Linked DNA regions of Homo sapiens. The main gene of each other region encodes a partner of the protein of the gene in region 2 in a complex. Each region holds a gene or a part of one and is shown on either strand. Other genes may lie near its edges. The genes, in order: THOC2 and THOC7.

Region 1 (8,705 bases), on a different chromosome or scaffold from region 2:
TGAGAAAAAGTGATGTAGGAGATCGAAATACTTAGATAAAATGGAATTTTAGGTTCACATTATGTATATTTACATAATACATGCTATCTGTCATAGTTCTTATGTTTGAAGAGCTGCTTAAAAACTGTTATTAGAAGCCGAGCGTGGTGGCTCACGCCTGTAATCCCAGCAAATTGGGAGGCCGAGGCGGGTGGATCACCTGAGGTCAGGAGTTCCAGACAAGCCTGACCAACATGGAGAAACCCCATCTCTACTAAAAGTACAAAATTTGCCGAGCGTGGTGGCACATGCCTGTAATCCCAGCTACTCAGGAGGCTGAGGCGGGAGAATCGCTTGAATCTGGGAGGCGGAAGTTGCGGTGAGCGGAGATCGCGCTGTTGCACTCCAGCATGGGTAACAAGAGCGAAACTCTTTAAAAAAAAAAAAAAAACAAAAACCCAAACAAAAACAAACCAAAAACAACAGCAAAAAAACCTGTTATTAGAACTTACGTGTATGTAGTTATTGCATGACTTGTGGAATGTGGATTGAATTATAGTAGATCCAAATCAGTATAGTCAGTTTTATGATTGCATTCTGTTACAGGAAGAGAATTTAAAATTGTGTAACATAATAAGCTATTTTAAATAGTTAAACACATCACCATCCAGTACTTAGTTTCAGTTTATTTGACCTGTTTTCCCTCTATGAAACTTTGTTGCATATAGCATGTCTTTGGAGTTTTTGTGTCTTCCTAAAGATAGGTGTTAGCATTTTCATATTACTAGGCAGAATACGTGGTGGTGCAAATATATTACAAAAAACCTTTTTCCTTTGTCTGAAAACAGCTTCTGAAATATAAAACAGCAACTGGAAATGTTAAAAATGAAGGTAGTGTGCCACCACATTATTAGTGAAGCTATAGATTTGGCGTTTAGAATATGACCAATATTTAAAATTATACCTTGGGTGAATTTTTCCTTTTTAACAAGATAAATTAGCAGATAAGCTTTAACTTGACTGAAAATTATCTTTTTAAAAATAATGTGATATATTTCATGAGGTTGTTAATTCATTTCTTGTCTGTCACTTCTTACCAGCATAAATCTTTTCTGGGGGTGGTAGTCAGCTAGTGTTGAAAGCAACATAAGAGATGTATGGGGCATTTTATAACTTTCAGATAGGGCAAATTCTTAACTGTACGCCATGAAAAACAACTGTCTATTAAATGGAAGGTCTTGACTTTGAAGAATGTTTTATTAGGTAATTAGAGAGAAAAGTAAAACTGTATTTTGCCTATCTGAATGGTCCATCCATCACATATCTAGATATCCCATTATGTTTCCAGAGATACCAATTATGTTTTTAATGCTAAATTATAGAACTCTTAAAGAGTGACCTTTAAAGTGATCTTAAAGAGGGATCAGAAGGGCAAAGGAGGACTACCAAAATGTAATTGTAATTTCCAATAATACTTATATCTAAATGCAAACTCTTCCAAATTCTGAAAGATATGTATTTAATCACTTAATTTTGGAATTAGTTTTAGTTTCTTGATTATTTTATATTGACGTAGAACTTGCCATGATGAAGCTAATAAACTTGCATGTACTGGTAGATCCAGTGTAGAATTCTGTTTTTGGTAGAAATCATTAACACAGTGAACTCAGCATTTCTTTGTTACAGGCAACCTTAATGGAGAATTGATATTCGAAGCTCTTAATCTGAAGATGCTAGCCTCATGTTAATACTTAGTCTAATTTTGAAATACTTACGTTTGTTGAATATCATCTGTTTGTTTGAATAGCTTATTTAGGTATCAATTAGAAAGTTTTGTTAGGTCTTACCTTATTAATGGTAGTTACAATAAAGTTTTAAAATTTAATTGCCAAATGTTTTGATTGTTGTTCTTTTTCTTCTTCTGCTACTACATGATTTTAGACATTCTAGAACTTATTTAAGTATATTTGGTTGTTCAGAACATGCCATCTGATCTGAATTTCTTGGAGGATTCCAGGTAAAGGGATATAATCATTCTAAGAAATTTTAGTCTTGGTGGTTGAGTCTTTTTTCCTCGCAAAGTTGCTCCAAATTCAGCCAAAGCTTTATCTGAAACCTTTTCTTGATGTCTCAGTTTTCATTTAGCATTTAATTTCCCATTTCGACCTGTATTCATAAGCTAAGTATAAGTCTTAGTCTGTTTTCCTGGGAAGAGAAACATTCTTCACAAAATGTTGAAGCAATGTCAGGAGGTTGTATAGGCTACTACTTTGTTTGTTAAAAAAAATTATTCTGTAATGCTCTAACGTTTAGGTAGGGTGAGTGCTGTCAATATACTTGTGCTTTTTTCCTACTGTAAGTGCGGCAACTCCTGTTGTCTTTTTTTTTTTTAACATTTCCTGTTTCCTTTTCTTTTAAATGCATGTTTCTACAAGATAAAACTGTGTTGTCCCAGTATTCATTTTTGTGGGTTATGTTTCTGTTCTACAAATGATAATAGAGGTAGCACTTTATTTAACTACATTTAACCTTTTTGTTGTCTTGTTTTAAAGAATTAAGTGAAGCGTAAATGAACATCAGCCTTCTATATATGAAAGCCACATTTGAGATGTGAGCATAATCAAGTAGTTTAAGCTTGTGACTCTGTTTCCTTTTTACTGGAAAATGGGAACAAGTAAGATGAAAAGCCGTATACTCATGTTAAGAAGTATTCACAAAATACCTTTTAAGTCCTTGAAGGAACTTCAGACATTTTATTCAGTTTTCCATACATCTTTTGACAGAAAGTAGATTCTGTCCTCATTCTCAGGGACCTGAGACAGCATCTCCATAATAGCACTAAACTATTTTAAAAGTAGAAAAAATGAATGCCTGGCGTGGTGGCATGTAAGGTGGTGTGCACTGTGGCACACACCTGTAATCCCAGCTACTTGGGCAACTGAGGCAGGAGGAAGGATTGCCTGAGCCCAGGAGAGCTCTGGGCGACATAGCGAGAACCTATCTCTATTTTTATTTTTAAAAAATTAAATTAAAAAGTGGAAAAATGGTAAACTCAAGTATTTGAAAGTTATTAAGGGATTAAAATAATTTCAATTTGGACTGAGACAGAAAATTTGATTATTTTTAAGCGATATTAAAGTGGGCAACTATTAGAGGTAGTTTTGTTTTTTCCTCTCCCTATAATTTAGGTTAGTGACCTAAAACCATTAGGCAGGTGTATAGTAAGACAAATGTAATGTTCAGAAACAGTTTCTTTAAGAATCCTTGGTGGACTTCTATTAGTGAATTACTTAGGGAGAAGAGCACAGATACATCTACTTGTTGGGGAAAAATCTCAGTGTTTGTTTTTAGTTTCTTGTTATAACTAAGGAATACCTGTTTTTTTTTTATTAAAAAATTTATTTTTAACTAAGTTTTTTTTGAGACAGGGTCTTGCTTTGTCACCTAGGCTGGAGTGCAGGCGATCACGGCTCACTGCAGGCTTGACCCCACCAGGCTCAAGGGATTTTCCTGCCTCAGCCTCCTGAATTGCTAGGGCTACAGGTGCATGCCACCATGCCTGGCTAATTAAAAACATTTTTTTGTGCGGGTGTATGAGTAGGGATGGGGTTTTGCTATATTGCCCAGGCTGGTCATAAACTCCTGGCTTCAAGTGATCCTCCCCCCTCAGCCTCCCAAAGTGCTGGGATTACAGGCATGAGCCACTACGCCCAGCCAAAGGAATACCTCTTTTATACTAGGGAAATGTAAGTATCTATTATGCAAACAAATTGCCTTATTGTAATAACCTTTCAATGGTTCCATATGCAACTTGAGCAAATCTTTGAGATTCTAACTAATAGTTCATGATGACATTGTCATCTGTGTCCTAATGAACATGTTTGTAGCCTGGTGACTGACAATATAGAATTATATTTCAATTATTTCTTAAAGTTATGTAATGATGACTGTACCATTAGTCTAGGTAGGAGTTTGCAACACTGATGCAACCTCTTCCCCGCAACCATTGGAAGGCTTTTTGCAAAAGACATGCATTAAGATTGTTAAATAGAAATGAAACTATTGAAAATGTGAGGAAGCAAGTGCATTGTTATAAGGAGAAGTTTTTTTTTTTTTTTTTTGAGACAGGGTCTCACTCTGTTGCCCAGGCTGGAGTGCAGTGGCACGATCTTGGCTCACTGCAGCCTTGACCTCCTGGGCTCAAGTGAATAAGGAGGAATTTTAAACAATTATTTTATTTCTCTTTCTTTCTCATCCTTTCCTTTTCCTTTCCTCTTTTTCTTTTTTCTCTTTTTCTATATGAAGGAATATTTGAAATTGCATTTTAGTAGCCCGAGTACAAAGGGAAAGATGAGTTACTTTATTCTGTTAAATTCTTCTTTCAAAGACATGGTGCTTCCTGCTATTATTATTATTATTTTTTTTGAGACAGAGTCTCACTCTGTCGCCCAGGCTGGAGTGCAGTGGTGCGATCTCGACCCACTACAACCTCCGCTTCCTGGGTTCAGGTGATTCTCCTGCCTCAGCTTCCTGAGTAGCTGGGATTACAGGCATTGGCCACCAAGCCCGGCTAATTTTTGTAGTTTTAGTAGAGACGGGGTTTCACCATATTGGCTAGGCTAGTCTCAAACTCTTGACCTCAAGTAATCTGCCCTCCTCGGCCTCTTAAAAGTGCTGGGATTATAGGTGTGAGCCACGGTGCCTGGCCCCTGCTATTATATTCTAAAGAGAATTGACCCTATAAGGGAAATGAGAACCCAAAGAGGGAATTGTTTTAATACTTCATAGTAAATATTGAAGCAACCTTGATATACTTATATATCTCCTCTCCACAAAAGACCTAGATGGCATTTTTAGGTTATATCTTCTGATGCTAGTCTGAAGCAGATGTTATTTCTGTGTTGCCTGGTGGAAGGAAGATTGATTTTGTTTTATATTCCAGATAAACTTATGTTAGGTTTAACGTATTTTGTGAAATTAGAAGCTTAATCGTGGTTTTTTTTTTTTTTTTTTTTTTGAGATAGGGTCTCACTCTGTTCCCCAGGCTGCCCAGGCTGGAGTGCAGTGGTACTACGATCACCACTCACTGCAGCCTCGACCTGCAGGCTCAAGTGATCCTCCCAGCTCAACCTCCCAAGTAGCTGGGATTATAGGCATGTGCCACCACACTTGGCTACTTTTTTTTTCTATTTTTTTTTTTTTTTTGTAGAGATGGGGTCTCACTTGTTGGCTAGGCTGGCTAGGCTGGTCTTGTACTCCTGTGCTCAAGTGATCCTCCCACTTCGGCCTCCCAAAGTGTTGGGATTACAGGCATGAGCCAGCATATCCAACTTTAACCAGTGTTCTTAACCAACCACTGTTCTCTTCTCAACCCATTAGAAGGCCTGTCTAGTTCTCCAGGGAAGTAGTTGAAAGTACTTGGGATCAAACTTAAACCAGCTTACCATTTGTAAGGTACTCTCAGAATAATTTTTTTAGTGAGAAATGTTTAATAGCTAAATGACATTTTCTTTCTTTGTTTTTGTTTTTGAGATGGGATCTTGCTCTGTCACCCTGGAGTGCAGGCTGGAGTGCAGTGGTGCGATCATGGCTCACTGGTGTGATCTTGGCTCACTGCAGTCTCAACTTCCTGGGCTCTGGCGATCCTCCCACCTCAGCCTCCTGAGTAGCTGGGCCCACAGGCGCGTGCTACCATGCTCTGCTAATTGTTTGTGTTTTTGGTAGAGACAGGGTTTCACCACGTTACGAGGCTGGTCTTGAACTCCTGAGCTCAGGTGATATTACCAGGCTGGTCTCGAACTCCTGAGCTCAAGTGATTCACCCACCTTGGCCTCCCAAAGTGCTGGGATTACAGACGTGAGCTACTATGCCTGGCCTGACATTTTCAAACTAAATATTTAATTTAGTAGATGCTCTCCATTGCCCTTATTTTTTATTTTTATTTTTTCTGAGACAGAGTCTCGCTCTGTTGCCCAGGTTGGAGTGCGGTGATGCAGTCTTGGCTCACTGCAACCTCTGCCTCCTGGGTTCATGCGATTCTCCTGCCTCAGCCTGTAGAGTAGCTGGGATTACAGGTGCGCACCACTGCGTCCAGCTAATTTTTGTATTTTTAGTGGAGACGAGGTTTCATCATGTTGGCCAGGCTGGTCTCAAACTCTTGACCTCAACTGATCCACCCACCTTAGCCTCCCAGAGTTCTGGGACTACAGGTGTGAGCTACAGTGCCCGGCTTCCATTGCCTTTTTATTTTTTGGTTTTGAACATATTTGTGAAACCTAGAAGTGAATTGTTGACCAGCAAAAGTTTACTCTGTTGACTTTTAATAACCTTACCCTGCTCATCCTGATGATAGGGTATTGACATAATCAGAAGGCACAGAGGTGAGCTGCAAGGTTATGTATAATCTGCAAAGTAGATAATCTCTCTGTGGATGATTGTAATCTGGCATCTTATTTAGCCTTAGATGTGATATATAAGCAGGTTCTGTAAGTCTTAAAATTATTTGTTTCATTGACTAGAAAAAGGATTACTAGATATAAAAGAGTAAGAAACTCTTCTATATGAATTCATTGGCTCTCTTTAAAGCCTTGTGCAACATGGAAGAATTTTTTTCTAAATTGTGAAATGTAATGAAAATACAGAGAAGTCATGAAACCTCAATATAGAGCTTAAAATAATCACTGTAAGATGCACCCCCATGTAACTTACACCCAGGTCAAGGCAACATACTGTTTGTTCCCGATCAAACCTTTCCCACCTCTCATGTAGTAAACATTATCCTGACATTTATGGTTTTCCTCTTGATTTTTCTCTTTTTTTAACCTTGCATCTTCAACTCAAAGAAACTTTCTTGATTTTCTTTGCAGTGTCATTACCCAATATGTTTAATTTTTTTCTTGAACTTCATATAAATGAAATCATTGAATATTTATCCTACTGTTTCTGGCTGCTTTTGTTCAACAGTTATGACTTTTAAGATTCATCCATATTGTATGTTTGCAGTTCATTGATTTTCCTTTTTTTTTTAGTTCATTCATTTTCATAGTTGCAAGATACTCCATCGTATACCAGTATTTGTTTATTTTTATGCTGTCTTGTTAAACATTTTTGTTGCGTCTAGTTTTTGGCTATTACTAACAGTGCCAATAGAAACATTATTATACAACAGTTTTGGTGTATACAAGCATGTGTTTTTGTGGAGTATATACTAGGTGTAGAATCTCTGGGTTATAGGTTACACTTTAGCTCTGTTAGATATTGCCAGGCTATTTCAGTGTACACTCCCACCAGCAGTGTATGAGTTGACCTTGTTTCACATTGTCACTATGTTTGATATTGTCAGACTTAAATTTTTTGTAAATATGTATGTAATTTTACTGTGGCTTATATTTCCATGAGCATCTTTTTATATGTTATTGGTCATTTGGAGTACTTCTTTTTTTTTGTTTGTTTGAGACAGAGTCTTGCTCTGTCGCCTAGTTTGGAGTGCGGTGGTGGCGTGATCTTGGCTCACTGCAACCTCTGCCTCCCGAGTTCAAGCGATTCTTGTGCCTCAGCCTCCTGAGTAGCTGGGATTACAGGTGTGTGCCACCACACCTGGCTAATTTTTGTGTTTTTAGTAGAGACAGGGTTTCACCATGTTGGGCAGGCTGGTCTTGAACTCCGGACCTCCGATGATCCGCCCGCCTTGGCCTCCCAAAGTGCTGGGATTACAGACGTGAGCCACCACGCCTGTACTGGAGTTCTTATTTCTTTTTGTGAAAGGTCTCTGTCATATCTTTTGCCTTTTTTGTTATTGAGTTGCTTGAGTTTCTTTCACTGATTTGTAGGGGTTCTTTATATAGTCTGTATTTGAGCCCTTTTTGGGTTACACTGCATGTGTTACAACTGTCATTTTTTTTTAATTTTAAGTTCTGGGATACATGTGCAGAATGTGCAGGTTTGTTACATAGGCATACATTTGCCATGGTGGTTTGCTGCACCTATCAACCTGTCATCTAAGTTTTAAGCCCCACGTGCATTAGGTATGTGTCCTAATGCTCTCCCTCCCCTTGCTCCCCAACCCCCAACAGGCACCAGTGTGTGATGTTCCTGTCCCTGTGTCCATGTGTTCTCATTGTTCAGCTCTCACTTATGAGTGAGAACATGTGGTGTTTGGTTTTTTTGTTCCTGTGTTAGTTTGCTGAGAATGATGGTTTCCAGCTTCATCCATGTCCCTGCAAAGGACATGAACTCATCCTTTTTTATGGTTGCATAGTATTCCATGGTATATATGTGCCACATTTTCTTTATCCAGTCTATCATTGATGGGCATTTGGGTTGGTACCAAGTTTTTACTCTTGTGAATAGTGCTGCAGTGAACATACGTGTGCATGTGTCTTTATAGTAGAATGATTTATAATCCTTTGGGTATATACCCAGTAATGGGATTGCTGAGTCAAATGGTATTTCTGGTTCTAGATCCTTGGGGAATCACCACACTGTCTTCCACAATGGTTGAACTAATTTACTCCCCCACCAACAGTGTAAAAGCGTATCATCGGCAGCAAATACTCTGTTGTTTTCCTTGAAGTGACAGGCTCACTTGGTTCAGTTTTGAGAAAATGCCTGTGAAAGACCCATGTCTTAAAAACCATAGTTTGCTTTTCTTTCAAGTAAAAAATGGTGTTTCATAAAAACAAGCTAGTTCAGCTTGCAATTCAAACAATCGCACAAGTGCTTTACCT
Region 2 (9,359 bases):
TCCTGCCAGACCCTTTCCTATTGACAAAAATCAACACAGGTACCCAACTGTGAAGGCATTTTAAAGACAGCAGAATTAGACAACTAAAGTTATAAGTGTAACTTCCACCCATGAAGTCCCTGGGTTACCTGTGAAGGTCTCAAAACGAAAGGAGTGCTGAAGCACTTTTAGGGGTGATGGACTATAAAGTACATGTGCAGTATTTTAGTTTTTTAATTCAGATTATAAGTGAAGAGAAAATGTTAAATGGAATCTTGCCCACAGAGAGAAATATAATGCTGGTGGGTGGCTATCATTTCTTCCTGCCCAGCAGCATCCATGTCCTCCCCTCTGCCAAATAAACCATCATTTTCCACTTTCCTCTAAATATCTATATTTGGGGACCACTCAATCCTAACTCATTTTTGAAAATCTTTTTCTTAAAAAACAATGTTTTAAGTGTTAATATCTTCATCACACCAATTTGGAAATAATGTACTTATTATCCTATACCATGAATATACATGTTTCCTCAGATGTTTATTAATGGTTCCCCAAACCTGGCTTGTAAGTCCTTCTTGCGGGCCAAAGAGGAGCTAAGACTTTTATACGGGAAACTTCTAGCTAGCCTCCCAACAACTCTACTAGTTAGCCATATCCAGATGAGTAACTGAAGAGTCAAGCAGGGTAAGTAGCTACAGTGAATAAAGGAAACCAAATTTGAATTTTAAGTCTATTTTGACTCAAACTGTGTTTTTCCCATCATGTTCTACTGTCCTGCCAAGGCACAAACACATTTTCTTACAATGATTCCCTTTGAGTCAAATTTCAAATTTTCTGGAGAGAAGAGAGTGGAGCTGAAAGACCCATTTACTCCAACGGCTGGTGTCAAGATCAAATCTTTGCTTATCTACCATCAAACGATCTGGTCTGAATTTTTAGATATAATTTTTTAAAAACACAGCCACAGTACATGCAGGACTAGCACGTCAGACCAGCTTGGCTTATCAACTGATAGGCAATGCTTTGTTGTGGGAATAAAATGGAAGTGCTTTTACACCTCTAAGTCTGAAGACAACTTTATTTATTTATTTGTTTGTTATTTATTTATTTATTTCAGTGTCTTACTCTGTTGCCCAGGCTAGAGTGTAGTGATCTCGGCTCACTGCAACCTCAGCCTCCTGGGTTCAAGTGATTCTCCTGCCTCAGCCTCCTGAGTAGCTGGGATTACAGGCCACACCACCACGCCTAGATAATTTTTTTTGTATTTTTGGTAGAGATGGGGTTTCACCATGTTGGCCAGGCTGCTCTTGAATTTCTGACCTCAAATGATCCACCCGCCTCGGCCTACCTCAAATGATCCACCCGCCTTGGCCTCTCAAAGTGCTGGGATTACAGGCATAAGCCACTGTGCCCAGCCTGAAGATAACTTTAAAAGGCAAGTAACGAGCACACAGATCTACTTTTCAAAAATGTTTTTTTCTCTTTAGAATGGTCATTCTGTGATGGCTCATGACTGTAATCCCAGCACTCTGGGAGGCTGTGGCAGGAGGATCACTTGAGCCCAGGAGGTCAAGGATGCAGTGAGCCAGTTTCATGCAATTGCATTCCAGACTGGGCAACAAAGTGAGACCCTGTTTCAAAAGAAAAAGGAAAAAAGAAGAAAGAAAAGAAAAGAATTCTAACTTCCATTTTATTCAATAAAAAGATGTGTCTCTAATTTTTTTAAGTCCTGGATCTCTTTTCTAAAACAACTACAGACCCTCTTCCAGAAAAATACACATACACAAAAAGTTCTGGTCACAACTACAGGGAGTTCAGGAATCCCTTGAAACCAACCCTTGGAGGGTCACAGACCCCCAGGATAACTCTTGCTCTAAAAGCATAGTACAAAATTCCTTACATTATTTCACAGACCCAGAATAAAGACCATATATAGCTAGCTCTCTCATAATTTTTTATATTTTCAGAAAGCAAATATCAAATAAACACACAAATTTTCTTAACTAGTCTTTCATATTCTCAAAAAAAAAAAAACCCAGAAATCTTATGACTCAAATAAATCAATAAATATAAGGTCATACAAGTTCAAAGTCTGAATCAGTTTTCTTAAAATCTGCTACTTCCATTTCTGTGTTTCTGCCCATAAAGATCTGTCTTGAAAAGAAGAAACATTAGTATGGTAAGGGCTTGAGTCTTTGCTACTTTAACATTCATCAACATGTTAATATGTAAAAAGAAGACCACTTGTAAAGTTTACTAAAAGATGTTCTCTCATATATATGAGATATACGATATGATGAAAAGACAATTCTTAAATGTTCAATGAATAGATCTGTGTCAATGCAATTGCAAGTAAAATCATGTAGCTGACAAAATAGATTTTAGAGTTCATAAAGGCTCAAATTATGTGTTTCCCACCACTTGAGTCAAGAACTTTCAGGCTGGACACAGTGGCTCAAACCCATAATCCCAGCACTTTGGGAGGCTGAGGCGGGAGGATCGCTTGAGCCCAGCAGTTTGAGACCAGCCTGGGCAACATAGTGAGATCATGTCTCTACAAAAATAAAAATAAAAAACTTAGCCAGGCATCATGGAACATGCCGGTAGTCCCAACTAGTTGGTAGGCTGAGATGGGAGGATCACTTGAGCCCAGGAGTTCCAGGCTGCAGTGAGCCCTGATGATCGTGCCACTGCACTCCAGCCTAGGCAACAGAGGAAGGTCCTGTCTCAAAAAAAAATAAAATAACTTTCAGGAATGTTTATTTTCAGGTACAGCTCAAACTTTAAAGTCTTTCAAATTCCTCTTGGTCTTATTACTCCAGAAAATTTCTAGCATCATCCAACAAAATTATAGGTTATCAAATTAACTTATAGAAATGTTTGAACAGCACTCCATTTATGAATAACTCAGAGAGTATCTCACGAAAATTTAAGTTACAGGGGGCAGTGATACTTTCCCATGAAAATATTACAGATTATTTTAAATCACTGACACTGTTTCAAAATCAGTATTATGATAAGATTAAGAAACACTTAAAAAAAACTTTTCACCACATGACAATTACTTTCTTTTTTTTTTTTTTTTTTTTTTTTTTTTTTTGAGATGGAGTCTCGCTCTGTCGCCCAGGCTGGAGTGCAGTGGCGGGATCTGGGCTCACTGCAAGCTCCGCCTCCCGGGTTCACGCCATTCTCCTGCCTCAGCCTCCCAAGTAGCTGGGACTACAGGCGCCCGCCACTACGCCCGGCTAATTTTTTGTATTTTTTTTTAGTAGAGACGGGGTTTCACCGTTTTAGCCGGGATGGTCTCGATCTCTTGACCTCGTGATCCTCCCGCCTCGGCCTCCCAAAGTGCTGGGATTACAGGCGTGAGCCACCGCGCCCGGCCGACAATTACTTTCTAAACAATAACTATCCCCACCAAAATGCAACTTGGTATTGTGAACCCCAATCAATTGACAATTTCAGTTTACAATCTGTAGTACTTAAGATTTAAAACAATTCTTCTCTTAGAGTGCCCTGTCTCCTAAAACCAAGGAAATGAACAGGGTCTGATGATGCCCACCTACAGCCAGCGTTTAGGTCAGTATTTTTTCAAAGTCGGAAACTTCATACCTTAGGGGAGAGCAAGTCACATCTCAGAATCTTCATGTAAAGTAATTTTTGTCTTTGTGACAAAAGTCAAGTTCTTGAGCACTAATTCTTGAGAGCACTGTAATGGTATTATTGAAGTCACTGGTCTCACATAATATGACTAAAATTGTACATATTTCTTGCTAGAGGTTAAACACACTTCACTTTAATACATTTGCATCTGCAACTTCTCCTCTTTGAAAGAACTGGGGGAAAACAGGGAGAATGTACCTAAATTTAGTAAGGAAAGTGAAACAACCAAGTTTATCCTACACAACTTCTTCATCCCGGATATGAAGATGCAAGATCTACTTGGGGGACAGGAAAATTGGAAAACAACGGTATGGCTGAATAAAATAACAAACCTGGGTTCAAAATGAGACACGATCCTGGTGCTAATCGTATCTATCCCACTGGAGGTCAAATCAGCTGCACTGGTGCCTGTTTCCTCATCCACCTCTCACCACCTAAACGTGCCATTTACGAGAAAGCTATCGAAGTTGAATCAAAGTGACTTTTGGAAAGAGATGCCAATATAATTTGCAGTGTGCTCCAAACAACTACACACAAGGCAACGTTTCTCATTGAGCACCCCCGCCCCCACTTTCAACTTCCCCTTAAGATAGGGACAGTCACATAGACATTTTTTGAAAATCAAAGAGAAAAATAAAAGCACCCCATCACGATCACCGACGAAATCCCGACTCTGTGGTGGAATTGGGTGCCGGGTGAGGACGATGGCAACACGCTCCTGGTCGCTTCGCGAACTCCTCCGGGAGGTCGCCAAGTTTCTCTTTCACCCTTTTTCCCGCACCCGCCGAGCCCAGGAAGGAAGGGGGCGGCCGCAGGGGCCGGAACCGCGCGACCTGGAACCCGGGGCCTTTTTTGATTGCCGGCCGCGCCCCGCGCAAGTGCCGGCGTTCGAGACCCGCCCCAGCGCGCGTGGGCGCCAACTTCGCGGGGACCCCCAGCGACGCGCCCCCCTCGGTACCCCTAGTCCCGCCTCTCCTGGGCTCAGCCGGATCCGGGCGTCCCCGTCACCCTCCCCACCCCCCAGGGAAACGAGCCCACCCCTAGCAGCGTCACCCTGGATGGGGCGGCGGGGCCGCAGTCACCTTCCCGGGGAAGAAGCCGGGACCCCGACTGCGGGCGGCCCGCAGCTCCCGCCGCACCCCCGCAGCCCTGGCGGCGTCCGGGCGAGCTCACCTGGCGGCTGGCTGCGGCCTCCGGGGCGGCCTCTGGGCGTGGGCCGGGCGGGGGCTGCAAGGGGGGCGGCGGGAGCCCGGGCTGCAGCCGGGGCCGCCGCCGGCCGCCAAGCCTCGCCCCAACTCGCGCCGGCCGCGGCCGCCCCCGGGGAGTACCGGGAGCGCGGGGAGCGCGGGTCCCGCGGCGGCGGCGGCGGCGGCGGCGGCGCGGCGCGGCGCGGCTCAGGCGTCGGAGCAGGCGGCCGCGGGCGCCGCCGCCTCCTCCTCCATGGCTGTTTACCCGGCTGCATTGTGGGAGTTTGACCTCCGCCGCCGCCAACCGCCGCCTCAGCTTGCGCCGCCGCCGCCGCCGCCGCCGCCGCGCACGCCATGGGAGCCGTGACTGACGGTGAGGCCCCGCTCGCCGCCACACGCGCCCGCTGCACGGCCCGCTGGGCCTCCCCTGAGACCCCTGGCCTCCCGGCCCGCTTCCGGGAACCCCTCGGCCTCCCCGGCCTCTTCGCCAGAGCGCTTCGGCCTTCCCGACCTCTCCCCGGAGCCCCGGGCCTCCCCGGCTGCTTCCCTGAGTCCTTCCTCCTCTCGCCAGAGCCCGAGCGCCCCTCGGAGACCCTCGGCTTTCCCCGTCCGCTCTCCCGGAGGCAGCGCGGGGCTATAGGGTGTGCCGGGAGCGTGGTCGGTGGGCTGGGAACACACGTGGGTGGCCGAGACGGCTAGAAGCGGTGCAAGGGCGGGTGGGACCAGAGGGAGTCCGGGTTTGTCTAGGGGCGCGGTGAGGACCCAGGAGCCGCGAAGGGTGGACAGTGGTGCCGGGCTTAGGGCTGGGGGCCTGGAAGGTTTGTGGAGGTCTGGGAGGGAGTGGGAGCTCCAGGGACGGGGCGGGAATTTCGGGACTCGTCTACAAGGGGTGTCAGGATACAGAGCGTGACACCAGGAGGGGTCCTGGGGCATATTGGGAAGCACTCACAGACAGTGGAGTCGATGGCAATGAGGCCTTGAACTGCGAGTGGATTGTGGGTGAGAAGGAGGAGCAGGGAATTATTTATAAAAGGAATAGATAGGGATGAGGTATCCGGAGGGTGATCAGGAAGTGTACCTGGGAGATTTACGGGGGTAAGGAGGAGCCAGTATAGTGATGAGACCGTCTAGGGTAGATCAGGACGATAAAAGATGTATGTGTGTGTGTTAGGAAGGGTGGTTGTCAGCTGGGATGAATTTAGAGGGGCAAAGGCTGGGTTTGTGGACAGTCTAAGGGAGATGGTCTATGGACTGAGAGCGGAAATAAGGTGACACTTTGGGGGAAGGGGCATGATTGGCAACTGGAGGGAGAACCTACAAGGTATCTGGTTAGGGAGGAAGGAGGTCCTTTGATATCTGGGAAGGGGATATCTAGGGCTCTTGGGTGTTTTTCAGGAGATGGTGACCGGTAACTGTAAATGCCTGTGGAGAGGCCACTTCTTAAGAGTTGAAGACCACCAGGGTCTCCACATTAAAGGGCCTGGCCATGGGAAGAACAGTGATAGGCCCAAATTTCCAGACTGATAAAGAGTAGTGGAGGTGGGAGGCTACTAAAGACCCAGGAACTTCATGTGGAATTTCAGCTTTGCTTCATTCCAGTTTCATTTATTTAGTGGATATTTATCCTTCCTGGACTAGGCTTTGGGATTACAACCCAGAACTAACAAGCAAGAACTTTTCCCTCTCCAAAATTTTGGTCTGAAGGGAAAGAAACATTGACTAATGAGTTTTAAGAGTGACAAATATTACCACAAGGAAGTACAAGGTTGGGAACTGTAGGAACATGTAACAAAGATTATTTATCCAATCAATGGAAATGAGAAAGCCTCCTCGAAGTTAATCCCATTTTTGAAGAATAAATAGATATTGGACTGGTGTTCTGGGTTGGTAGCCACTTGTATAAAGACCCCAAGATGTTGGAAGAACTCAAAGCTGACAAGTATTGCTAGAATTTAGAAAGTTATGAGCCAGAGATCTCTAAGGGCAATAGGAATCCATTAAAAGTTTTAACACTGGTGTGGTGTTAATCAGATTGGCATTAAAACACACACACATGCCGGGCACAGTGGCTCACGCCTGTAATCCCAACACTTTGGGAGGCCAAGGCAGGCGGACCTCTTGAGCTCAGAAGTTCAAGACCAGCCTGGAAAACATAGTGAGACCCCATGTCTACAAATACAAAAAAATTGGTCTGGCACAGTGGCACACACCTGTAGTCCCAGGACTTGGGAGTCTGAGGAGAAAGGATCACTTGAGCCTGGGAGGTTGAGGCTGCAGTGAGCCAAGATCGCGCCAGTGCACTCCAGTCTGGGTGACAGAGTGAGACCGTGTCTCATTAAAAAAAAAAAAAACACACACACACATACACACTGTCTCTGTTATGTGCAGAATGATTAGAGGAAGAGAAAATGAGGAGCTAAGTTTCCTCGCCACTTACTAACGTTTACGTAGTGCTGTTAGGTATTATTCTAATTGTTATCCCCATTTTACAGATGAAACAGACACAGGTTAGCTTGCCTAAGGTCGCACAGATAGTAGTTATAGAGGGTCAAAGGCAGGGAGACCACCTGCCGAGTTCCTGCTCTTCACTATTATGCGTCCTGTGTCTGCTACTTCTGCAGTGGCCCTGGTGAGAGACAATGAGGACTGTGACCAAGAGGGAATGCAAAGAGGACAGGTGGGAGGGAAATAGGGAAATTTGTGAGGTAGAATGTCAGGACTTCAGGTATTGAATGGATGGTGGGAGAAGGGATTTAGGATGATCCCAGGTTTTTGACTTCACTGTGTGCCTGTTAGTGCTACTTTTCTATTTATTGAGATTGAGATGTCCAAAGGAGCAACAGGCTTTGTCAGATGGGAGATAGGGACAGAAGATGAGTTCTAAAGTAATGACTGCAGTCAAGTGCCCCCCCACATCCTTAAAAGCCACAGGAATCTCTACCCTGCCACTTACAGACTGTCTCAGCTTCAGTCTCTGAACGGAGATAATAATAAAATCCACATCAGCGGATTGTTTTGAGGATTAAACACAAAAAGTTGTAAAGGGCTTTGCATTGAGTCCAACACATAATAATTAATATTCAGTAAATATTAATGTCAGAGTTGTTTTACTAATCTGTCTTCCACTTTCCTTTGATGTGGACTTTGCCTTCTCTCTTAATCTGCACAGGTTGCCTTTTCCTGCCTTTTCTATCAGGTGACACTCCACTTATTCCTCAAGACCCACCTCAAAAATCCCCTCTTTTCTTTCCTAGAAGTAGTTGACCTTCTGCCTACTAGCCATATTATTTTATGCATATTGCTGCTGTCACCCTTAATACGTTATTTATATGCCTTATGCTAGAAAACATTTAAGGCAGTTCACTGTAATGAGAAAATATAAAAATTAAACGGATTAGAAAACAAGACAAAAAGAACATTGAGATTAGGAAAAATAAAGGGAAGTCAGAAGTGGGGTGATCCTCAAAATGCAGGAGGATAAAGTCTAGTACATTAATTAACCAAGCTGTAAGTGACCTGTTTCTCCAGTAGGCCATTCTGAGAGGCAGGACCTCGTCTGCTCTGTGATCTAGTGTTCATGAGAGAAGGCAATCTTAGATGCCCAGGAAAAGCACTTTTTTTTTCTGATTTGAACTAGAGGAAAAGTTTATCATTGAGGTCTTTATAAATGAAAGCCAGTGTCATATCCTTAACCTCTTTTCAGCACTGAAGATCATAGAGCTGTTTTGTAGCACATCCCTTGCTAGGTAAAAGAAGGCTAAATCACAATTTAGAAAGACATTCTAAAGCCAGTAGAGGCTGGGTGTGGTAGCTCACACCTGTAATCAATCTTAGCACTTTGGGATGCTAAGGCAGGAGGATCACGTGAGCCCAGGAGTTTGCGACCATCCTAAGCAACACAGCAAGACATGATCTATACTACAGAATTTTTCAAATTAGCCAGGCGTGTGTGGTGGTGTGCACCTGTAGTCTCAGCTACTCATCTCTACTAAAAATTTTCTTAAATTAGCCAGGTGGAGTGGAACACACCTGTAGGTAGTCCCAGCTACTCAGGAGGCTGAGGCAGGAGGATCACTTGAGCCCAGGAGTTTGAGGTTGCAACGAGCCATGATTGCACCACTGCACTCCAGCCTGTCAACAGTGCTAGACCCTGTCTAAAAATAAATAAATAAAATCAATGGACAATGTGGTTTAGGTGGGTAGTGGGTAGCTCTGCTGATCTGGCTTGATTCAAATCAGGGTTTTTTGATTGAATATCTAGACCATAGAGGAAAGACAAACTACAACTTCTTCAGACAATCCTCTATAAACATGGTTTTTGTCAGCTGAGCTTTTGAAAAAATCAAGCTGAAATGAGTGGTATGTGTGATCCGTCAACAAGTATTTATTGCATACCTTCTAGGCACAATGCGAGGTCCTGGCTACTTTGCAGTGAACTAGACAGAGGAGGGCCCTGGCCCCTGCTTTGGGGAAAGAAGCCATAGTGTGCAATCAAATAAGTAAATAAGATAATTTCTGAAAAGGAAT

The links.
Region 1: THOC7 (region 2) and THOC2 share a complex: the UniProt entries of both Homo sapiens proteins name them as parts of the transcription/export (TREX) complex.

What each region holds. Positions count from the first base shown.
Region 1 is NC_000023.11:123,721,908-123,730,612, reverse strand, and holds part of THOC2 (THO complex subunit 2), read left to right. Parts: intron 1-8,705. UniProt on the Homo sapiens protein: Component of the THO subcomplex of the TREX complex which is thought to couple mRNA transcription, processing and nuclear export, and which specifically associates with spliced mRNA and not with unspliced pre-mRNA.
Region 2 is NC_000003.12:63,859,618-63,868,976, reverse strand, and holds the start of THOC7 (THO complex subunit 7), read left to right. Parts: upstream 1-5,171; 5' UTR 5,172-5,186; coding exon 5,187-5,205; exon of another isoform or gene 5,206-5,473; intron 5,474-5,781; exon of another isoform or gene 5,782-5,833; intron 5,834-7,157; exon of another isoform or gene 7,158-7,478; intron 7,479-7,980; exon of another isoform or gene 7,981-8,332; intron 8,333-9,359. UniProt on the Homo sapiens protein: Component of the THO subcomplex of the TREX complex which is thought to couple mRNA transcription, processing and nuclear export, and which specifically associates with spliced mRNA and not with unspliced pre-mRNA.